Regions from separate parts of the Homo sapiens genome. Here region 2 is linked to region 1. The links come from fine-mapping of genetic effects on gene expression. A gene starts in region 1. The other region holds a variant in brackets. All regions are shown on one strand. Distances are between the middles of the regions.

Evidence for each region. PIP is the estimated chance that this variant, and not a neighbour inherited with it, causes the effect.
Region 2: its variant is fine-mapped to the expression of TAPBPL in blood mononuclear cells (TOPMed, PIP above 0.99).

Annotation. Positions count from the first base shown.
Region 1 is chr12:6,448,649-6,458,928 of GRCh38, forward strand. It overlaps TAPBPL (TAP binding protein like), which reads left to right and starts at 3,394. Exons shown (of 7, transcript NM_018009.5): 1 at 3,394-3,664; 2 at 4,419-4,649; 3 at 4,799-5,068; 4 at 8,758-9,096; 5 at 9,997-10,280. The coding sequence starts at 3,601. It overlaps CD27 (CD27 molecule), which reads left to right. Exons shown (of 6, transcript NM_001242.5): 3 at 1,525-1,704; 4 at 1,893-1,982; 5 at 2,247-2,366; 6 at 2,620-3,065. The coding sequence ends at 2,744. It overlaps CD27-AS1 (CD27 antisense RNA 1), which reads right to left and starts at 2,869. Exons shown (of 6, transcript NR_015382.2): 1 at 1,693-2,869; 2 at 1-89. RefSeq lists enhancers at 2,204-2,413, 2,504-2,663, 3,094-3,693.
Region 2 is chr12:6,531,145-6,542,329 of GRCh38, forward strand. GAPDH (glyceraldehyde-3-phosphate dehydrogenase) reads left to right here and starts at 3,373. Exons shown (of 9, transcript NM_002046.7): 1 at 3,373-3,425; 2 at 3,666-3,717; 3 at 5,350-5,449; 4 at 5,540-5,646; 5 at 5,776-5,866; 6 at 5,957-6,072; 7 at 6,165-6,246; 8 at 6,440-6,852; 9 at 6,957-7,227. The coding sequence starts at 3,689. The coding sequence ends at 7,026. It overlaps IFFO1 (intermediate filament family orphan 1), which reads right to left. Exons shown (of 10, transcript NM_001193457.2): 9 at 10,368-10,498; 10 at 8,395-9,444. The coding sequence ends at 9,339. It overlaps GAPDH-DT (GAPDH divergent transcript), which reads right to left and starts at 3,263. Exons shown (of 2, transcript XR_002957397.2): 1 at 2,320-3,263; 2 at 772-1,999. It overlaps NCAPD2 (non-SMC condensin I complex subunit D2), which reads left to right. Exons shown (of 32, transcript NM_014865.4): 32 at 183-811. The coding sequence ends at 268. RefSeq lists enhancers at 1,515-1,644, 1,605-2,378, 2,379-3,152, 3,153-3,926, 5,475-6,248 and 3 more and silencers at 2,555-2,804, 3,525-3,664. The variant T/C (reference allele first, on the strand shown) is at 5,255.

The DNA.
Region 1 (10,280 bases):
CAGCTACTAGGGAGGCTGAGGCAGGAGAATCACTTGAACTCAGGAGGCGGAGGTTGCACTGAGCCGAGATCGTGCCACTGCACTCCAACCTGGGCGACAAAGCAAGACTCTGTCAAAAAACAAACAAACAAAATAAAGGCTAAGTAACTGTAATCAAGTAACTATTTATTATTTATTTATTTTAGTGTATCCACAGGTTGTGCAGCCATCAACACTATCTAATTCTATAACATTTTCGTTACCCCAGAGAAACTTGTACCCCTTAGCAATGACTCCCCATTTCTTCCCCCCAACCAACCCCAGCCCCAGCCCCAGCCCCTGGGAATCCCTAATATACTTTGTTTTGTTTTTTGTTGGTGGTGTTTGAGACAGGATCTCACTCTGTCACCCAGGCTGGAGCGCAGTATCATGATCTCAGCTCACTGTAACCTCCACCTCCCGGGCTCAAGCGATCCTCCCACCTCAGCCTCCCCAGTAGCTTGGGCCTACAGGTGTGCACCACCACACCCAGCTAATTTTTGTATTTTTTGTAGAGACGGGGTTTCACCATGTTGGCCAGGCTGGTCTCAAACTCCTGAGCTCAAGCAATCCACCCACCTCAACCTCCCAAAGTGCTGGGATTACAGGCGTAAGCCACTGCACCTGGCTATTTTCTTTCTTTCTTTTCTTTTTTTTTTTTTTTTGAGACGGAGTTTCACTCTGTTGCCCAGGCTGGAGTGCAGTGGCGTGATCTCGGCTCACTGCAACTTCCACCTCCCGGGTTCAAGCAATTCCCTGCCTCACCCGGCTATTTTATATTTGTTGATCTGCTGCTGGTTATGCCTGTGAGCCAAATTTGTACAAATTCTTAAGCTTTACAATCATGCGTGCCTCTCTGTACGTATATTATACTTTAATTAAAAGTTATTAAAGTATTGGGGCCGAGCACAGTGGCTCACGCCTGTAATCCCAACACTTTGGGAGGCTGAGGCTGGTGCATCACCTGAGGTCAGGAGTTTAATACCAGCCTGGCCAATACAGTAAAACCCCGTCTCTACTAAAAATACAAAAAATTAGCCGGGTGTGGTGGCACACACCTGTAATCCCAGCTACTTGGGAGGCTGAGGCAGGAGAATTGCTTGAACCCGGGAGGCAGAGGTTGCAACGAGCCAAGGTCACGCCATTGCACTCCAGCCTCGGCAACAAGAGCGAGACTCCATCTCAAAAAAATAAATAAAAAATAAAAAATGTATCAGGGAGTACAAGAGAAAGTCATATAAGCTCTTTCTACTTTTCATGGTTTCTATGTCTGAACCCATGAATCTTCCTTCTGAAAGGTCCAACTTTCTTCTTTAATAACAATAATAATGGCAAAGGCATTGGGGGACCGTGAGCAAAGGGCAGGCCTTTGCAGGGGTGGGAATGGAAAGGGAAGCACGTCCCTAGAGGTGGGCCTGGGATGGGGGTTGGGGGATGAAGCAAGTGGACCTTGAAGGTCTCCACAGGTCTGAGTGTCCTATGCTCCCTGGGCCTCTCTTCCCCCAGGTCTTCTCGTTCGCAACTGCACCATCACTGCCAATGCTGAGTGTGCCTGTCGCAATGGCTGGCAGTGCAGGGACAAGGAGTGCACCGAGTGTGATCCTCTTCCAAACCCTTCGCTGACCGCTCGGTCGTCTCAGGCCCTGAGCCCACACCCTCAGCCCACCCACTTACCTTATGTCAGTGGTAAGTTCCAGGCAACTCTCTGTGCCATCACGTGGGGTAGCGGTGATACCCCAACCAGTACTCCCCACTCCTACCCCTAGATAAGGTCAGCCTGTTTCTGCCTTCCCATCCCATCCAGCACCTCTCAGGCCTTCAGATGTGCCCTATGGGGTCCCCTGCTGCTACTCATTCTGTCTCTGTTTTTCCAGAGATGCTGGAGGCCAGGACAGCTGGGCACATGCAGACTCTGGCTGACTTCAGGCAGCTGCCTGCCCGGACTCTCTCTACCCACTGGCCACGTGAGTTTTCTCCTTAATCCCCACCGCTAGAGAGAATGCATACACGAGGGGCCAGGAGGGAAGCCAGACAGAAAGCTCCTAGGATTAGGGATAAGAGGAGGGGAAAAAGCAGAGTCCACTGTTTAGGAGAGGAGTTGGCCAACGGTGGCGGGTGGGATAGAATAAGGTGGGGGAAAGGGGAGAGGCAAGGTGACAGGAGGGCTGGGCTGAGGGAGCCAAGGGCTAGACCCTCCCCTAACCCCTGTGTGTCCCCTCCTATTACAGCCCAAAGATCCCTGTGCAGCTCCGATTTTATTCGCATCCTTGTGATCTTCTCTGGAATGTTCCTTGTTTTCACCCTGGCCGGGGCCCTGTTCCTCCATCAACGAAGGAAATATAGATCAAGTAAGAGACAGAACACAGGCCTCCGGTCCTGCCCCTGCACCACACCCCACTGGCTCAACCCCACTGCCCACGCCTGGAATCTCACTGAAACCCACCAGCTCCACTTCACCAGCCTTGGTCCTACCCCTTCTCTCCCCTTAGCTGGCGTGCTCCTGACACCCCTCCCCCAAGCGCACCCGCCTCTACCCATCTCCTTCTCCCGTCTCCCCCTGCCCCCACTGCTGGCCAAGACTCATCGGATCTCCTTCTGCAGACAAAGGAGAAAGTCCTGTGGAGCCTGCAGAGCCTTGTCATTACAGCTGCCCCAGGGAGGAGGAGGGCAGCACCATCCCCATCCAGGAGGATTACCGAAAACCGGAGCCTGCCTGCTCCCCCTGAGCCAGCACCTGCGGGAGCTGCACTACAGCCCTGGCCTCCACCCCCACCCCGCCGACCATCCAAGGGAGAGTGAGACCTGGCAGCCACAACTGCAGTCCCATCCTCTTGTCAGGGCCCTTTCCTGTGTACACGTGACAGAGTGCCTTTTCGAGACTGGCAGGGACGAGGACAAATATGGATGAGGTGGAGAGTGGGAAGCAGGAGCCCAGCCAGCTGCGCCTGCGCTGCAGGAGGGCGGGGGCTCTGGTTGTAAAACACACTTCCTGCTGCGAAAGACCCACATGCTACAAGACGGGCAAAATAAAGTGACAGATGACCACCCTGCAGCTCTCCAGCTTCCTCTCTGAAATCCCAGTCCCAAAATCCAGTTTCCTGGCCGCCTCCTGGCTCAGGTCAGGATCTGGCAGAGGAGGTTTCTCAGCCGGTTATGTTGGGGCCTGCTTAAGGGCGGGGGTGAGAAAGGTCCCCAGGCTACTGTGGATCCTGTGTCTGACTTCAGATCCCCTTTTCCCACAGTTATAGCTCCACTTTTTTGGGACAGGTGGGGAGCAAAAGGGTGCAGAGGTCAGGTCTTGAAATCACCAGGGGATTTCCGGGTGAGGTGGGTGGTGAGAAAGGAAACAGCAAGCAGGGCTCTGGCAGCTGCTGCAGACGGCTTCACACAGGGACGCGGGCTGCCATCTTGCTCTAAGTGAAAGTGAAAGAAAAGTCGGCAGCAGAGGGAACAGGGAAGAAACCTAAAGGCTGCAGGCTGCCAGGTGTGCTTGGAGAGCCCCCTTCTTCCGCCGGGCCTCGCAAGCAGCGTAGGACTGTGGAGAAGGGCGGTGGGCAAGGAGGGAACTCGAGAGCAGCCTCCATGGGCACACAGGAGGGCTGGTGCCTGCTGCTCTGCCTGGCTCTATCTGGAGCAGCAGAAACCAGTGAGTCTGGGAGTCGGGGAGAGCTGGCTGGGAGAAGAGCTACTGAAGCCCCAGGGTGCCACCCTCCCCGAGATTCCAGAAGAGCAAAGGGGCCGGGGATGACCCCATCGCCTTCTAAGCCCAACAGGGGAAAGGCTCAGCGGCTGGCAAAGGAAGGAACCAATAGTGTGTGTGGAGGGAGGGTGGGGACTCCACAGGGAAAATGCTAAAGAGGGGCTGCCTCTGTGGCTGTGGTCAGGAGCCACTGTCCTACAGAGAGGGCACTGGCCTGGGAGCTGACACTTCAGAAGAGGAAAGGACTCCCCAGGTGAGGAAATCACTTGGAAGGTGACCTTGAAGGCGGGGGAGGGGAAGGCTACCCGAAATGGGAGAAAGCAGTGCAGGCTGTCAGTGCCCCAGCAACAGTAACTGTCCAGTCTCCTCTCTCTGCGGTGGCACTTGCTTGTTTTCTGAGAATTCCTTTGACTGAAAAGATAGTCTTTTATTCAACAGTTGGAAATGCAAGCATAAACTCCTCTGAGCAAGGCAAATCCAGGACTTTAACTCTCACCAAGAAGTATTTGCCTGGACTAGCAGGTGCTCTCCAGAAAGCTGGTTTGGGGATGACGGGAGAATAGAGGGACACAGAAACAGCTAGGATCTTGGATGGCAACTTTTACCCTTTGATGACTCCACAGCTTGAGGGCGGGGGCAGGAAGCAAGTGTGGAGTAGCTTTCTGGGGAAGGCGGTGCTCACCCCAGCCTTTGTCTGCAGAGCCCCACCCAGCAGAGGGGCAGTGGCGGGCAGTGGACGTGGTCCTAGACTGCTTCCTGGCGAAGGACGGTGCGCACCGTGGAGCTCTCGCCAGCAGTGAGGACAGGGCAAGGGCCTCCCTTGTGCTGAAGCAGGTGCCAGTGCTGGACGATGGCTCCCTGGAGGACTTCACCGATTTCCAAGGGGGCACACTGGCCCAAGATGACCCACCTATTATCTTTGAGGCCTCAGGTAAAAGCCTTCCACCTGTGTCCTTGGTCCTCCCGGGCTCCCTCCACCAGGACAGCCCAGGTCCCGATTACAGCCACACATACTGCCTCCCGTTGGCCCTGGTGTTCTCACGCTAATTTGCCCTCTGTGTGTGCCCTGCTTCTCCCCAGTGGACCTGGTCCAGATTCCCCAGGCCGAGGCCTTGCTCCATGCTGACTGCAGTGGGAAGGAGGTGACCTGTGAGATCTCCCGCTACTTTCTCCAGATGACAGAGACCACTGTTAAGACAGCAGCTTGGTTCATGGCCAACATGCAGGTCTCTGGAGGGGGACCTAGCATCTCCTTGGTGATGAAGACTCCCAGGGTCACCAAGAATGAGGCGCTCTGGCACCCGACGCTGAACTTGCCACTGAGCCCCCAGGGGACTGTGCGAACTGCAGGTAAGAAAATGAAAAGCAAGGCCAGGTGTGGTGGCTCACGCCTGTAATTCCAGAATTTTGGGATACCGAGGTCGGTGGATCACCTGAGGTCAGGAGTTTGAGATCAGCCTGGTCAACACGGTGAAACCCCGTCTCTACTAATACCAAAATTAGCCGGGCATGGTGGCGGGTGCCTGTAATCCCAGCTACGAGGGAGGCTGAGGCAGGAGAATCGCTTGAACCCGGAAGGCAGAGGTTGCGGTGAGCCGAGATCACACCATGGCACTTCAGCCTGGGCAACAAGAGCGAAACTCCATCTCAAAAAAAAAAAAGAAAAGAAAAGAAAAGCAAGTCACAGAAAGTTTTGCTTTTCTAAAGTGGTAAGATATGGGGCACAGAAGAAGAAAGGGAACAAATCCACCTCCATCCACACTGGTCACCTCAGGGCACCCCTAGGCCTTGGTCCTTTCTTCCTAAAAACCCCTGAGTCAGGCCAGGTGCGAAGGCCCATGCCTGTAATCCCAGCACTTTGGGAGGCCAAGGCAGGTGGATCACCTGAGGTCAGGAGTTCAAGACCAGCCTGGCCAACATGGTGAAACCCCCTCTCTACTAAAATACAGAAATTAGCCGGGCATGATGGCAGGTGCCTGTAATCCCAGCTACTCAGGAGACTGAGACGGGAGAATCACTTGAACCTGAGAGACGGTGGTTGCAGTGAGCCGAGATTGCGCCACTGCACTCCAGCCTGGGCAGCTGAGTGAGACACCGTCTCAAAAACAACAACAACAACAAAAACCCTGAGTCCACAAGAGAATGCTTCGCAGCCCCTACCTGAACGTCCCCAGGCACACAGACAACCTGTGTTATTTCCAAAATGGAGATCGTTCTCATCTCACTGGGCTGCCATGAGGAAATAAGACACATGATGCTATTCTGTACATGGGTGCTGTCCACTGTAGTCTTATCGAGCCAAAACCCGGTTTTCTCCCAGTGAAATGCTAGGCTGCTCTGGTGCTTCAGGGGTAAAGCTCAGGGATGCATCATTTGTTCATGATCTTATTAGTAAACCCAGTACTTGCCCTCTCCAGCTCAGCACATCCTCGAGGGCACAAGAAATTGAGAACATGATGACAGGGTTCCCCAGAGCCCATTAATCCAATACTCTGTGCCCTGCTTCTTTGAGTCTCCAAGAAGAAACAGCCAAGTCCAGAGAAAATTAGGGGCAACCGTCCTATCCTTGGAAAACCCCAGAACACTCTAACCTCTCTGTGGTCCAACCTAAATCTATCCTGACCCATTAGAAAAAGGTCTTCATGTCTGTCCAGTGTCTACCATACTCCTGGCATGCGTAGGTATTTCTCTCTTTTTATTCCAAACCTACAAAAAAAGGTGAAATAATAATATAATGAACACCTATATACCCTACACCTAGATCCACCAGTTGTTAACAATTTGCCACATTCTCTCTCCCCCGACTCCTCATGTGTGTATATGTGTACGTGTGTATTTTCCTCTGAACTGAGAGTAAGTTGCAGAAGATAACACTTGAACCCCAAACGCATGTTTGAACCCCGAAACGCATGTTTAAACCCCAAATACATCCATAGCATGTATTAGTTTACAATGAAGGACAAGGATGTAATCCTTCATAGTTACAAAGCCATCATGTCAGAAACAAACCAAAGTGGGGAAGTAGTCTACCCGTAGCGCAGGCAATAAGGGAGTGCAGACTGTAAAATATTTCAGAACAAAAATAAAATCAGCTAAAAGTCAGATGGCTTTATAGTCTCACCATCTCCCGACACTGGCAATTCTGAATATTATCAGTGATAAAATACTCCTCTCTGCTAGGGCAGACTGTCCCTATCTCCCCACACGACTGCCTAGTATGCCACAGATCTTCATACTTTTAGATATTTTTTAATTGATATGATAATAGTCTCAACTATAAAGTCCAGGGCATGGTGGTGCACACCTGTAGTCCAGCTACTCAGGAGACTGAGGCAGGAGGATTGCTTGAGCCCAGGAGTTTGAGTCCTGTCTGGGCAACATAGAGAGCGAGACCCTCTTTTTTTTTTTTTTTTTTTAACAGTCTCATTCTGTCTCCCAGGCTGGAGTGCAGTGGCATGATCTTGGCTCACTGCAACCTCTGCCTCCCAGGTTCAAGTGATTCTTGTGCCTCAGTCTCCCAAGTAGCTGGGATTATAGACGCCCGCCACCACACCAGCTAATTTTTGTATTTTTAGTAGAGATGGGGTTTCACCATATTGGCCAGGCTGGTCTTGAACTCCTGACCTCAGGTGATCCACCCATCTCGGCCTCCCAAAGTGTTGGGATTACAGGCGTGAGCCACTGTGCCCAACCTAAGACCCTTCTCTTTAAAAAATAATTAAATGTCTCCAAATTCAAATTTCTCCACTTGTCCCAATATTTTTTTTTTTACTGCTTTTTCTAAGTACACAATTCAAACAAGAATCATGCAGTGCATTTAGTTGTGCTGTTCCTTGTTTTAATCTAGAACATGTTTCATAGAATTGACATTTTTGAAGGGTCCAGGCTAGTGGTCTTGTAGAGTATCCCAACATTTAGATTTGTCTGATTGTTTTCCTCATTTCCTCATGACTGGATTTAGGTTAAGCATGTTTGGCACAGATACTACTATCACATGCTTTTTTTTTTTTTTTTCGATATGGAGTTTTACTCTTATTGCCCAGGCTGGAGTGCAATGGCTCGATCTTGGCTCACCACAACCTCCGCCTCCTGGGTTCAAGTGATTCTCCACCTGAGCCTCCCAAGTAGCTGGGATTACAGGCATGCGCCACGACACCCAGCTAATTTTTGTATTTTTAGTAGAGACGGGGTTTCTCCATGTTGGTCAGGCTGGTCTCAAACTCCCAACCTCAGGTGATCCACCCGCCTGGGCTTCCCAATACCACGTGTGTTTTTTTGTTTTGTTTTGTTTTTTACATTTTTTTTGAGACGGAGTTTCACTCGTCGCCCAGACTGGAGTGCAATGGCGCGATCTTGGCTCACTGCAACCTCCACCTCCCGGATTCAAGCAATTCTCCTGTCTCAGCCTCCCAAGTAGCTGGAATTACAGGCACCTGCCACCATGCCCGGCTAATTTTTGTGTTTTTAGTAGAGACAGGGTTTTACCATGTTGGCCAGGCTGGTCTCAAACTCCTGACCTCAGGTGATCCACCCACCTCGGCCCCCCAAAGTGCTGGGATTACCGGCATGAGCCACCGCACCCAGCCACCACGTACTTTTTAAACTATTGTTTCTAGTCTTCACAGCATCCTTGCTTAAGCAGGTGAGCTTGGTAACACCAAGTGACTTGTCAAAGGTCACGGAGCCAGTAAGTGGAACAACCAGGGTTTCAGAGCTTTTTCTGCTACTCTAGTAGTTCTTACCTGAAGATTGATGGTAACTCTTAATTTTGCATGTGTATTTTTCCTGGTGGGAGATCCATAGCTTTCACTAAATTATCCTAGAGTAAGTGATCCCAAAATGGTGATGGCCATCATGTGTACCATGCTACCTTTCCAGAGCCCCATTTCTTTGTGGTTCCATGTGATGGAAAATAAGCTCAACCGGCCTGTCAGGCGAGGAAGAGGCAGGTGTATGCCCACAACATGCCCACAGCTTGGAGATCAGGTGACCTCAAGGAGGAAGTAGCCCACAAATCACCCCTCTTTTCCTCTTCACAGTGGAGTTCCAGGTGATGACACAGACCCAATCCCTGAGCTTCCTGCTGGGGTCCTCAGCCTCCTTGGACTGTGGCTTCTCCATGGCACCGGGCTTGGACCTCATCAGTGTGGAGTGGCGACTGCAGCACAAGGGCAGGGGTCAGTTGGTGTACAGCTGGACCGCAGGGCAGGGGCAGGCTGTGCGGAAGGGCGCTACCCTGGAGCCTGCACAACTGGGCATGGCCAGGGATGCCTCCCTCACCCTGCCCGGCCTCACTATACAGGACGAGGGGACCTACATTTGCCAGATCACCACCTCTCTGTACCGAGCTCAGCAGATCATCCAGCTCAACATCCAAGGTGAGGCCAGGACATGGTTATCCCAGGGAAGGGGATATAACATGTCTACTGGGAGCGTTTCCAGATTGGGACCCAAATGCAAGAATGATTTCCTGAGAAGCAGGCTTCAATCCCACAACTTAAATGCCATCTTCACCATGGAAGCACAGATGGCATCAGATAAGGAGTCCCGTTGGACTCCAGGATAATTCCACCAAGAGATTTCCAGCCCAGGATCCTGCTGCCCTGCTGTGGCTGGCTGTCTCCATCACCCCAGTCCTTTTGGACCACATCCTGAGGAGCAGCAGCAGCAAACCAAGGCAGAGCAGTGGAAGCGGTTCTGACCATTATCACTGCTATCCTTTAAAATCTCTGGCTTAGAGGCCGGGCGCGGTGGCTCACACCTATAATCCCAGCACTTTGGGAGGCGGATCACGAGGTCAGGAGTTCAAGACCAGCCTGGCCAATACGGTGAAACTCCGTCTCTACTAAAAATACAAAAAATAGCTAGGCATGGTGGTGCGCGCCTGTAGTCCCAGCTACTCAGGAGGCTGAGGCAGAAGAATCGCTTGAACCCCGGAGGTGGAGGTTGCGGTGAGCCAAGATCATGCCACTGCACTCCAGCTTGGGCGACAGAGCAAGACACCATCTTAAAAAAAAAAAAAAAACTGGCTTAGAATGACAGTAAGAAGCCAGCCAATCTTTAGTTGGCTTTACTATCTGTTTTCTGGAAAATGTAACCCTGCCCCCTTACGGCCTGCATCCAGGTGGGCCCCTCACACACCCCCGCCTTGGTACACCACCAAGGGACACTGTAGCCTCCACAATCTACTCTCATCTTGGCAGGAAGAAAAGGCTTCAGGCTCCTCCGCTGTCCCCAGTTAGATCCATGTGTAATCTTATTCCTCATTCTTTCTCCAGCTTCCCCTAAAGTACGACTGAGCTTGGCAAACGAAGCTCTGCTGCCCACCCTCATCTGCGACATTGCTGGCTATTACCCTCTGGATGTGGTGGTGACGTGGACCCGAGAGGAGCTGGGTGGATCCCCAGCCCAAGTCTCTGGTGCCTCCTTCTCCAGCCTCAGGCAAAGCGTGGCAGGCACCTACAGCATCTCCTCCTCTCTCACCGCAGAACCTGGCTCTGCAGGTGCCACTTACACCTGCCAGGTCACACACATCTCTCTGGAGGAGCCCCTTGGGGCCAGC
Region 2 (11,185 bases), 83 kb after region 1:
GGACCTGCTGCGGGGGCCTGAGTGTAGATGCTCTGCCCCACTGCCGCAGAAGGGCCTCTCCTGTACAGCTTGGATTTTATTTCTTCTGTGCGGTGTGGGATTGTCTCACTTGTTCTCTGATATCTATTTTTTCACCATCTTTGTGACTCAGCTTTTTCTTATTCCTTTAATTCTTTGCATAGATCTTTCAGCAGAGATGACAGAAGACGAGACACCCAAGAAAACAACTCCCATTCTCAGAGCATCGGCTCGCAGGCACAGATCCTAGGAAGTCTGTTCCTGTCCTCCCTGTGCAGGGTATCCTGTAGGGTGACCTGGAATTCGAATTCTGTTTCCCTTGTAAAATATTTGTCTGTCTCTTTTTTTTAAAAAAAAAAAAGGCCGGGCACTGTGGCTCACGCCTGTAATCCCAGCACTTTGCGATACCAAGGCGGGTGGATAACCTGAGGTAGGGAGTTCGAGACCAGCCTGACCAACATGGAGAAACCCCATCTCTACTAAAAATAAAAAATTAGCCGGGCGTATTGGCGTGCGCCTGTAATCCCAGCTACTCAAGAGGCTGAGGCAGGAGAATCGCCTGAACCCAGAGGCGGAGGTTGTAGTGAGCCGAAATCACACCATTGCACTCCAGCTTGGGCAACAATAGCGAACCTCCATCTCAAATTAAAAAAAAAATGCCTACACGCTCTTTAAAATGCAAGGCTTTCTCTTAAATTAGCCTAACTGAACTGCGTTGAGCTGCTTCAACTTTGGAATATATGTTTGCCAATCTCCTTGTTTTCTAATGAATAAATGTTTTTATATACTTTTAGACATTTTTTCCTAAGCTTGTCTTTGTTTCATCTTTCACATTAGCCCAGTTTCATGCAGCAGAGAGAGGGTTATCAGTGCAGAGAGAGATGAGTGAGCCCAGAGTCCTAGGGCCTGTCCCGGGATGGCAGATGAGCTTCCTGCCCCGTCACTGCCACCTTTCCCCTCTCAACCTCTGGACCCTGCACAGTGACCAGACAGCCTCTCTGGGGAGAATTATGCAGTGCCTAGGCTCCAGATCAGTGCTTCTGAACCGGGGGCAATTTTGTCTGCCAGAGGACATCTGACAACACCTGGGGCCTGTTTTGTTGTCATAGCCTATAGGGGAAGAATGCTACCAGCATTTGTGGGAAGAGGCCAGGGATGTGGCTCAACATCCTGCAGTGCACAGGATGGCCCCTCAACAAAGAATCACACGGCCCACAATGTCAATAGCGTCACAGTTGAGAAAACCTGCTCTAGACCAAGGGTTGCTTTCTGCCGTGTGCCTCACCCCACCCCCACTCGTGTTCCCTAATCCCATCTCCAAAGGTTGGCAGCAGACCGGCCCAGGCTCGTGGAAGTTCAGATCATGATCCCCTCCAGCTCTGCAGGAGACAAGACCTGTCTCCCAGCATTCCTCATTGTTCCCGGGTCTGCAGAGGGCGTGAGCTATGCTGCAGGCGGGCTGCCCCCTGAAGCCTGCGCACCCCTCTCCAGCTCCTCAAGTCTTCTCTGCTGAGTCACCTTCGAACCGGAGGCTGTGAGCTGGCTGTCGTGACCACACTGGTGCCTCTGCTGTCATGACAACAGCACACTACGTCAGTAGTGCTCCCTGGGCACTGAGCTCCCTCTTTGCGGGGAGAAGACAGTAATGAAAAATGACAAGCATGAGGCAGAGGGGAAGATCACGCTTGGGTGGTGCAGGAGCATGGAGGTGCTCTTAATGCTCTCAATGAGAAAGGGTTAACGGTCCTGGTTGCAGGAATAGCTGAGTCAGAGGTGGGGCTTCCTCCACTCCCCCACCCCACCCCTTTCACCATTAGGGACCTTCTTGCCTTGCTCTTGCTACTCTGCTCTGGGTGGTCATTGTGAAAAGCCCGCACCAACCATGCCAGTGGCAGCCAGACGAGGACACAGCCTGGCTCTGGGTCCCAGCAGGAAAGGCAATCCCAGAAAGGCAGGGTCAGGGACTGGAGTCCTGTGGGTGCTTTTTAAGCAAAGATTATCACCAGGCAGGCTAAACTTAGCAACCGGCTTTTAGCTAGAAGGGCAGGGGGCTGGTGTCAGGTTATGCTGGGCCAGCAAAGAGGCCCGGGATCCCCCTCCCATGCACCTGCTGATGGGCCAAGGCCACCCCACCCCACCCCCTTCCTTACAAGTGTTCAGCACCCTCCCATCCCACACTCACAAACCTGGCCCTCTGCCCTCCTACCAGAAGAATGGATCCCCTGTGGGAGGGGGCAGGGGACCTGTTCCCACCGTGTGCCCAAGACCTCTTTTCCCACTTTTTCCCTCTTCTTGACTCACCCTGCCCTCAATATCCCCCGGCGCAGCCAGTGAAAGGGAGTCCCTGGCTCCTGGCTCGCCTGCACGTCCCAGGGCGGGGAGGGACTTCCGCCCTCACGTCCCGCTCTTCGCCCCAGGCTGGATGGAATGAAAGGCACACTGTCTCTCTCCCTAGGCAGCACAGCCCACAGGTTTCCAGGAGTGCCTTTGTGGGAGGCCTCTGGGCCCCCACCAGCCATCCTGTCCTCCGCCTGGGGCCCCAGCCCGGAGAGAGCCGCTGGTGCACACAGGGCCGGGATTGTCTGCCCTAATTATCAGGTCCAGGCTACAGGGCTGCAGGACATCGTGACCTTCCGTGCAGAAACCTCCCCCTCCCCCTCAAGCCGCCTCCCGAGCCTCCTTCCTCTCCAGGCCCCCAGTGCCCAGTGCCCAGTGCCCAGCCCAGGCCTCGGTCCCAGAGATGCCAGGAGCCAGGAGATGGGGAGGGGGAAGTGGGGGCTGGGAAGGAACCACGGGCCCCCGCCCGAGGCCCATGGGCCCCTCCTAGGCCTTTGCCTGAGCAGTCCGGTGTCACTACCGCAGAGCCTCGAGGAGAAGTTCCCCAACTTTCCCGCCTCTCAGCCTTTGAAAGAAAGAAAGGGGAGGGGGCAGGCCGCGTGCAGCCGCGAGCGGTGCTGGGCTCCGGCTCCAATTCCCCATCTCAGTCGTTCCCAAAGTCCTCCTGTTTCATCCAAGCGTGTAAGGGTCCCCGTCCTTGACTCCCTAGTGTCCTGCTGCCCACAGTCCAGTCCTGGGAACCAGCACCGATCACCTCCCATCGGGCCAATCTCAGTCCCTTCCCCCCTACGTCGGGGCCCACACGCTCGGTGCGTGCCCAGTTGAACCAGGCGGCTGCGGAAAAAAAAAAGCGGGGAGAAAGTAGGGCCCGGCTACTAGCGGTTTTACGGGCGCACGTAGCTCAGGCCTCAAGACCTTGGGCTGGGACTGGCTGAGCCTGGCGGGAGGCGGGGTCCGAGTCACCGCCTGCCGCCGCGCCCCCGGTTTCTATAAATTGAGCCCGCAGCCTCCCGCTTCGCTCTCTGCTCCTCCTGTTCGACAGTCAGCCGCATCTTCTTTTGCGTCGCCAGGTGAAGACGGGCGGAGAGAAACCCGGGAGGCTAGGGACGGCCTGAAGGCGGCAGGGGCGGGCGCAGGCCGGATGTGTTCGCGCCGCTGCGGGGTGGGCCCGGGCGGCCTCCGCATTGCAGGGGCGGGCGGAGGACGTGATGCGGCGCGGGCTGGGCATGGAGGCCTGGTGGGGGAGGGGAGGGGAGGCGTGTGTGTCGGCCGGGGCCACTAGGCGCTCACTGTTCTCTCCCTCCGCGCAGCCGAGCCACATCGCTCAGACACCATGGGGAAGGTGAAGGTCGGAGTCAACGGGTGAGTTCGCGGGTGGCTGGGGGGCCCTGGGCTGCGACCGCCCCCGAACCGCGTCTACGAGCCTTGCGGGCTCCGGGTCTTTGCAGTCGTATGGGGGCAGGGTAGCTGTTCCCCGCAAGGAGAGCTCAAGGTCAGCGCTCGGACCTGGCGGAGCCCCGCACCCAGGCTGTGGCGCCCTGTGCAGCTCCGCCCTTGCGGCGCCATCTGCCCGGAGCCTCCTTCCCCTAGTCCCCAGAAACAGGAGGTCCCTACTCCCGCCCGAGATCCCGACCCGGACCCCTAGGTGGGGGACGCTTTCTTTCCTTTCGCGCTCTGCGGGGTCACGTGTCGCAGAGGAGCCCCTCCCCCACGGCCTCCGGCACCGCAGGCCCCGGGATGCTAGTGCGCAGCGGGTGCATCCCTGTCCGGATGCTGCGCCTGCGGTAGAGCGGCCGCCATGTTGCAACCGGGAAGGAAATGAATGGGCAGCCGTTAGGAAAGCCTGCCGGTGACTAACCCTGCGCTCCTGCCTCGATGGGTGGAGTCGCGTGTGGCGGGGAAGTCAGGTGGAGCGAGGCTAGCTGGCCCGATTTCTCCTCCGGGTGATGCTTTTCCTAGATTATTCTCTGGTAAATCAAAGAAGTGGGTTTATGGAGGTCCTCTTGTGTCCCCTCCCCGCAGAGGTGTGGTGGCTGTGGCATGGTGCCAAGCCGGGAGAAGCTGAGTCATGGGTAGTTGGAAAAGGACATTTCCACCGCAAAATGGCCCCTCTGGTGGTGGCCCCTTCCTGCAGCGCCGGCTCACCTCACGGCCCCGCCCTTCCCCTGCCAGCCTAGCGTTGACCCGACCCCAAAGGCCAGGCTGTAAATGTCACCGGGAGGATTGGGTGTCTGGGCGCCTCGGGGAACCTGCCCTTCTCCCCATTCCGTCTTCCGGAAACCAGATCTCCCACCGCACCCTGGTCTGAGGTTAAATATAGCTGCTGACCTTTCTGTAGCTGGGGGCCTGGGCTGGGGCTCTCTCCCATCCCTTCTCCCCACACACATGCACTTACCTGTGCTCCCACTCCTGATTTCTGGAAAAGAGCTAGGAAGGACAGGCAACTTGGCAAATCAAAGCCCTGGGACTAGGGGGTTAAAATACAGCTTCCCCTCTTCCCACCCGCCCCAGTCTCTGTCCCTTTTGTAGGAGGGACTTAGAGAAGGGGTGGGCTTGCCCTGTCCAGTTAATTTCTGACCTTTACTCCTGCCCTTTGAGTTTGATGATGCTGAGTGTACAAGCGTTTTCTCCCTAAAGGGTGCAGCTGAGCTAGGCAGCAGCAAGCATTCCTGGGGTGGCATAGTGGGGTGGTGAATACCATGTACAAAGCTTGTGCCCAGACTGTGGGTGGCAGTGCCCCACATGGCCGCTTCTCCTGGAAGGGCTTCGTATGACTGGGGGTGTTGGGCAGCCCTGGAGCCTTCAGTTGCAGCCATGCCTTAAGCCAGGCCAGCCTGGCAGGGAAGCTCAAGGGAGATAAAATTCAACCTCTTGGGCCCTCCTGGGGGTAAGGAGATGC[T/C]GCATTCGCCCTCTTAATGGGGAGGTGGCCTAGGGCTGCTCACATATTCTGGAGGAGCCTCCCCTCCTCATGCCTTCTTGCCTCTTGTCTCTTAGATTTGGTCGTATTGGGCGCCTGGTCACCAGGGCTGCTTTTAACTCTGGTAAAGTGGATATTGTTGCCATCAATGACCCCTTCATTGACCTCAACTACATGGTGAGTGCTACATGGTGAGCCCCAAAGCTGGTGTGGGAGGAGCCACCTGGCTGATGGGCAGCCCCTTCATACCCTCACGTATTCCCCCAGGTTTACATGTTCCAATATGATTCCACCCATGGCAAATTCCATGGCACCGTCAAGGCTGAGAACGGGAAGCTTGTCATCAATGGAAATCCCATCACCATCTTCCAGGAGTGAGTGGAAGACAGAATGGAAGAAATGTGCTTTGGGGAGGCAACTAGGATGGTGTGGCTCCCTTGGGTATATGGTAACCTTGTGTCCCTCAATATGGTCCTGTCCCCATCTCCCCCCCACCCCCATAGGCGAGATCCCTCCAAAATCAAGTGGGGCGATGCTGGCGCTGAGTACGTCGTGGAGTCCACTGGCGTCTTCACCACCATGGAGAAGGCTGGGGTGAGTGCAGGAGGGCCCGCGGGAGGGGAAGCTGACTCAGCCCTGCAAAGGCAGGACCCGGGTTCATAACTGTCTGCTTCTCTGCTGTAGGCTCATTTGCAGGGGGGAGCCAAAAGGGTCATCATCTCTGCCCCCTCTGCTGATGCCCCCATGTTCGTCATGGGTGTGAACCATGAGAAGTATGACAACAGCCTCAAGATCATCAGGTGAGGAAGGCAGGGCCCGTGGAGAAGCGGCCAGCCTGGCACCCTATGGACACGCTCCCCTGACTTGCGCCCCGCTCCCTCTTTCTTTGCAGCAATGCCTCCTGCACCACCAACTGCTTAGCACCCCTGGCCAAGGTCATCCATGACAACTTTGGTATCGTGGAAGGACTCATGGTATGAGAGCTGGGGAATGGGACTGAGGCTCCCACCTTTCTCATCCAAGACTGGCTCCTCCCTGCCGGGGCTGCGTGCAACCCTGGGGTTGGGGGTTCTGGGGACTGGCTTTCCCATAATTTCCTTTCAAGGTGGGGAGGGAGGTAGAGGGGTGATGTGGGGAGTACGCTGCAGGGCCTCACTCCTTTTGCAGACCACAGTCCATGCCATCACTGCCACCCAGAAGACTGTGGATGGCCCCTCCGGGAAACTGTGGCGTGATGGCCGCGGGGCTCTCCAGAACATCATCCCTGCCTCTACTGGCGCTGCCAAGGCTGTGGGCAAGGTCATCCCTGAGCTGAACGGGAAGCTCACTGGCATGGCCTTCCGTGTCCCCACTGCCAACGTGTCAGTGGTGGACCTGACCTGCCGTCTAGAAAAACCTGCCAAATATGATGACATCAAGAAGGTGGTGAAGCAGGCGTCGGAGGGCCCCCTCAAGGGCATCCTGGGCTACACTGAGCACCAGGTGGTCTCCTCTGACTTCAACAGCGACACCCACTCCTCCACCTTTGACGCTGGGGCTGGCATTGCCCTCAACGACCACTTTGTCAAGCTCATTTCCTGGTATGTGGCTGGGGCCAGAGACTGGCTCTTAAAAAGTGCAGGGTCTGGCGCCCTCTGGTGGCTGGCTCAGAAAAAGGGCCCTGACAACTCTTTTCATCTTCTAGGTATGACAACGAATTTGGCTACAGCAACAGGGTGGTGGACCTCATGGCCCACATGGCCTCCAAGGAGTAAGACCCCTGGACCACCAGCCCCAGCAAGAGCACAAGAGGAAGAGAGAGACCCTCACTGCTGGGGAGTCCCTGCCACACTCAGTCCCCCACCACACTGAATCTCCCCTCCTCACAGTTGCCATGTAGACCCCTTGAAGAGGGGAGGGGCCTAGGGAGCCGCACCTTGTCATGTACCATCAATAAAGTACCCTGTGCTCAACCAGTTACTTGTCCTGTCTTATTCTAGGGTCTGGGGCAGAGGGGAGGGAAGCTGGGCTTGTGTCAAGGTGAGACATTCTTGCTGGGGAGGGACCTGGTATGTTCTCCTCAGACTGAGGGTAGGGCCTCCAAACAGCCTTGCTTGCTTCGAGAACCATTTGCTTCCCGCTCAGACGTCTTGAGTGCTACAGGAAGCTGGCACCACTACTTCAGAGAACAAGGCCTTTTCCTCTCCTCGCTCCAGTCCTAGGCTATCTGCTGTTGGCCAAACATGGAAGAAGCTATTCTGTGGGCAGCCCCAGGGAGGCTGACAGGTGGAGGAAGTCAGGGCTCGCACTGGGCTCTGACGCTGACTGGTTAGTGGAGCTCAGCCTGGAGCTGAGCTGCAGCGGGCAATTCCAGCTTGGCCTCCGCAGCTGTGAGGTCTTGAGCACGTGCTCTATTGCTTTCTGTGCCCTCGTGTCTTATCTGAGGACATCGTGGCCAGCCCCTAAGGTCTTCAAGCAGGATTCATCTAGGTAAACCAAGTACCTAAAACCATGCCCAAGGCGGTAAGGACTATATAATGTTTAAAAATCGGTAAAAATGCCCACCTCGCATAGTTTTGAGGAAGATGAACTGAGATGTGTCAGGGTGACTTATTTCCATCATCGTCCTTAGGGGAACTTGGGTAGGGGCAAGGCGTGTAGCTGGGACCTAGGTCCAGACCCCTGGCTCTGCCACTGAACGGCTCAGTTGCTTTGGGCAGTTACTCCCGGGCCTCACTTTGCACGTGTGCTTACCTAGTGGAGACAAAAGTACATACCTCGGTAGAGCGCGCACGCCTGTAACCCCAGCACTTTGGGAGGCCAAGGTGGGTGTATCACCTGAGGTCAGGAGTTTGAGACCAGCCTGGCCAACATGGTGAAACTCCGTCTCTACTAAAATTACAAAAATCAGCCAGGCTTCATGGCACATGCCTATAGTCCCAGCTACAGGCATGCTGAAGCAGGAGAATCGCTTGCACCCCGGAGGCAGAGGCTGCAGTGAGCTGAGACCACACCACTGCACTCCAGCCTAGGCAACAGAGTATGAGACTCCATCTCAAAAAAAAAAAAAGTACCTACCTCAGAGTTCAAACTAGTGAATATTAGGAAGTGCTTGAGACAGTGACACCAAAGTGCACAATAAATACTCGCCAGTTTCATTATTATTAAAGAATCCATTTGAATGTCAGCTCAACACAGCCTCCTATACCGAGGCATTGTGAACCGCATCTCCCCAGCTTCTCCAGGCTTTTCCAAGAATCAGGGACACTGTAGCCTGTTGGTCTCAGTGTATGACAGACACGGAGGAAGCACATCTTTAGCTGATACTTAAACAGAGACCCTGAGCGCACATACACCCGCGCACACATGCATGGAGCTTCACCTTCTCTGTCATTCTGCAGTGACCAGGAGAGCAAGAGCTCCCACCTCCCTTCAAAACACTGTGCCCATCCCGGGCACTAAGGCCTCTTTAAAGCACGGCACCTCCACGAGGGAGGGCCACAGCCACATACACTCCACCTGGCAGGTGGACAGCGTGAGCACGTGGACCATAGCAGGGACAAGGTGCCCCGGCCAGCCCCAACGCCCTCTGCCGCTGACAGGGACAGAAGCCCTCTCCAGCTGCGTGTGCTGCAGAGGCCATGCGTAGCCTCCAGCTGCATTCTATTCCACTCCAGTGCCTGGGCCAGTTAGCACCAGTGTGGAAGACAGTGAGCTGGCTCCGGACAACAGGGATGGAGGAAAGGTCCCACATTCACATTCCTGATACGTGGACAAGGTGAGGGGCCGCAATCGCTCTGGCAGCATTTTAAAGATGGGGAAGTAGCAGACACCCACGCGTGAAGGCAGGAGAGCCCCAACTGTGGTGGAAATGGCCCCAGAATGGTAGGGCCAAGCCTAGCTCCAGACACCCCAGAGCCCTGGAGAAGCCAAGACTGAGGGAGAAAGCCTGAGGGAGGAGCGCCCCAGTCCCCAGGGACCGGCCTGGTGCAGAGCTGCAGCTGATGTTCCCCTCTGTGCAGCCCCACCCTCTGCCTCGCTGAGCTCCCTGCTGCGAGGGCCTCGGGTGCAAGGGGGAGGCAGGTCTCTATCTCATGGAGCTGTCAGATGAGACATCGCGATCGGAGTCCTCAGCCTCGCTTGGCGGCGGCGGCGGGTCGCTAAGCGGGACCGCAGTGAAAGCAGGAGACTTTCTAGAAAAAAACACCAGTTGTCAACCTTGGGGCAGGCAGGAATCCTGAAGACGGACGGCACTCCTCCTCCTGCTGCCTCACCCTCTGGCAGCCCGTGAGAAGTACCGGAAGCGAGGGCGGGGCCGCGGGATGGCGAGGGAGCGGCAGGGACTGAACTCTCTCCAAACCCACCCTGACAGGGAAATGGGCCCCGCCTGTGTCTTGGGAACTCAGAGGCTGAGGTCAGGCATGATGGCTCACGCCTGTAATTCCAGCACTTTGGGAGGCAGAGGCGGGTGGATCACGACGTCAGGAGTTCAAGGCAAGCCTGGCCAACATGGTGAAACCCCATCTCTACTAAAAATGCAAAAATTAGCCAGGTGTGGTGGCGGGCGCCTTGGAGGCTGAGGCAAGATAATCACTTGAACCTGGGAGGCGGAGGTTGTAGTGAGCCAAAAAAAAAAAAAAAAGAAATAGCTGAAGTCACAGTAGGAGAGAAGCTGCTGAGCCTCCAGCACCCTGACTCTAGGGCCTTGGCTTTATGTCTATCTGCAGTATTTTTGTGATTTTTAAAAATTCACTTTCTTGTTGCGGTGTAACTTACACAGGGTCAAATGCACAAATCATGGCCCTGACTTTAGATAAAAATCTGCCCCCACAACCCTTCTGTTCCTTGCCAGTTTTTAAACTGCCTCTAACCAGGGGAACCACCAGAGCTGGTGGCCTTGGGAGGTTTCAGCCCTCCCGTCATGAATGGACATAGCTCATCCAACTGCCAAGGGAGAGAGCTGTGGGTCTGGGCCAGCCCCACCAGGTAACTCCCAAAGGGCAGCCCCACAGCAAGATGTGACCCAGTCATTGCCTGAGGGTCTCTGGGGCTGTGTTCCAACCTTTCTCCCCGCTGTGTCCCCCTGGAAGGCCCCATGCCCAGGGGAGGCGCCTACCGGTCTCCAGACTGGGTGATGAGCCGGCGGCAGGTCTCCATCTGCACGTCCAGGCCGCGCTTCATGCTGCACATCTCCATGTACTCGTGCAGGTGCCGGTTCATGTCGTTCTTGGCCGTGGCCAACTCCAGCTGTGGTGGGGCAGGCAGGGCCATCGGGGTTAACAGGTGGCGTTCACAGCGCCTCTGTTGCCCCCGCCAGGAGGCCAACACGCCAAGAGCAGTGGCTGGGCCGGGGGCCCAGGCAGCCATTACTGAAGGCTCAGATTTTAAAATAAACCAGACCAAGGCAGAAGGCAGCGAATACACCATTGTTTCCTCTGCTTTTCCTGGAAATCTTTGCCTATGGAGGAATGCAAAGGTACTGCTGCAGGCTGTGTTCTTTTAAGACTGATAAGAGTGGTGAGGAAAGTCAGTGTGGGCGGGATGGAGCAGATCCACAGGCTCCCAGGGCCACACAGGTTCCTATGGGGCCCGGCTCACCCCTCATCCCCTGTACTGCGCTGGTCCTGGGCTGTCCCCTCACTGCACTGTGAGCTCCCGTAAGGGTTAGCGACAGGTTTTCCTCATCCTGGCAGACCCAGACCTCGAAGGGAATTAACTCTCTCTGTGACCCGTGGCATACAAGCCTGGCTAACTGCTGAAAGGGGCCCAATCCTCTTACCATTCTCTCCTTATCACTTTATTTTCTCACCTAAAAGCCATTTTCAGACACTAAAAGGAAGACTCCCATATTGGAGGTGCCATTGATTCTGAGACCTGTCCTGATTTCAGAAATGTCACACGTGGAAAACACGGGGCTCAGAATCAAAGAAATCC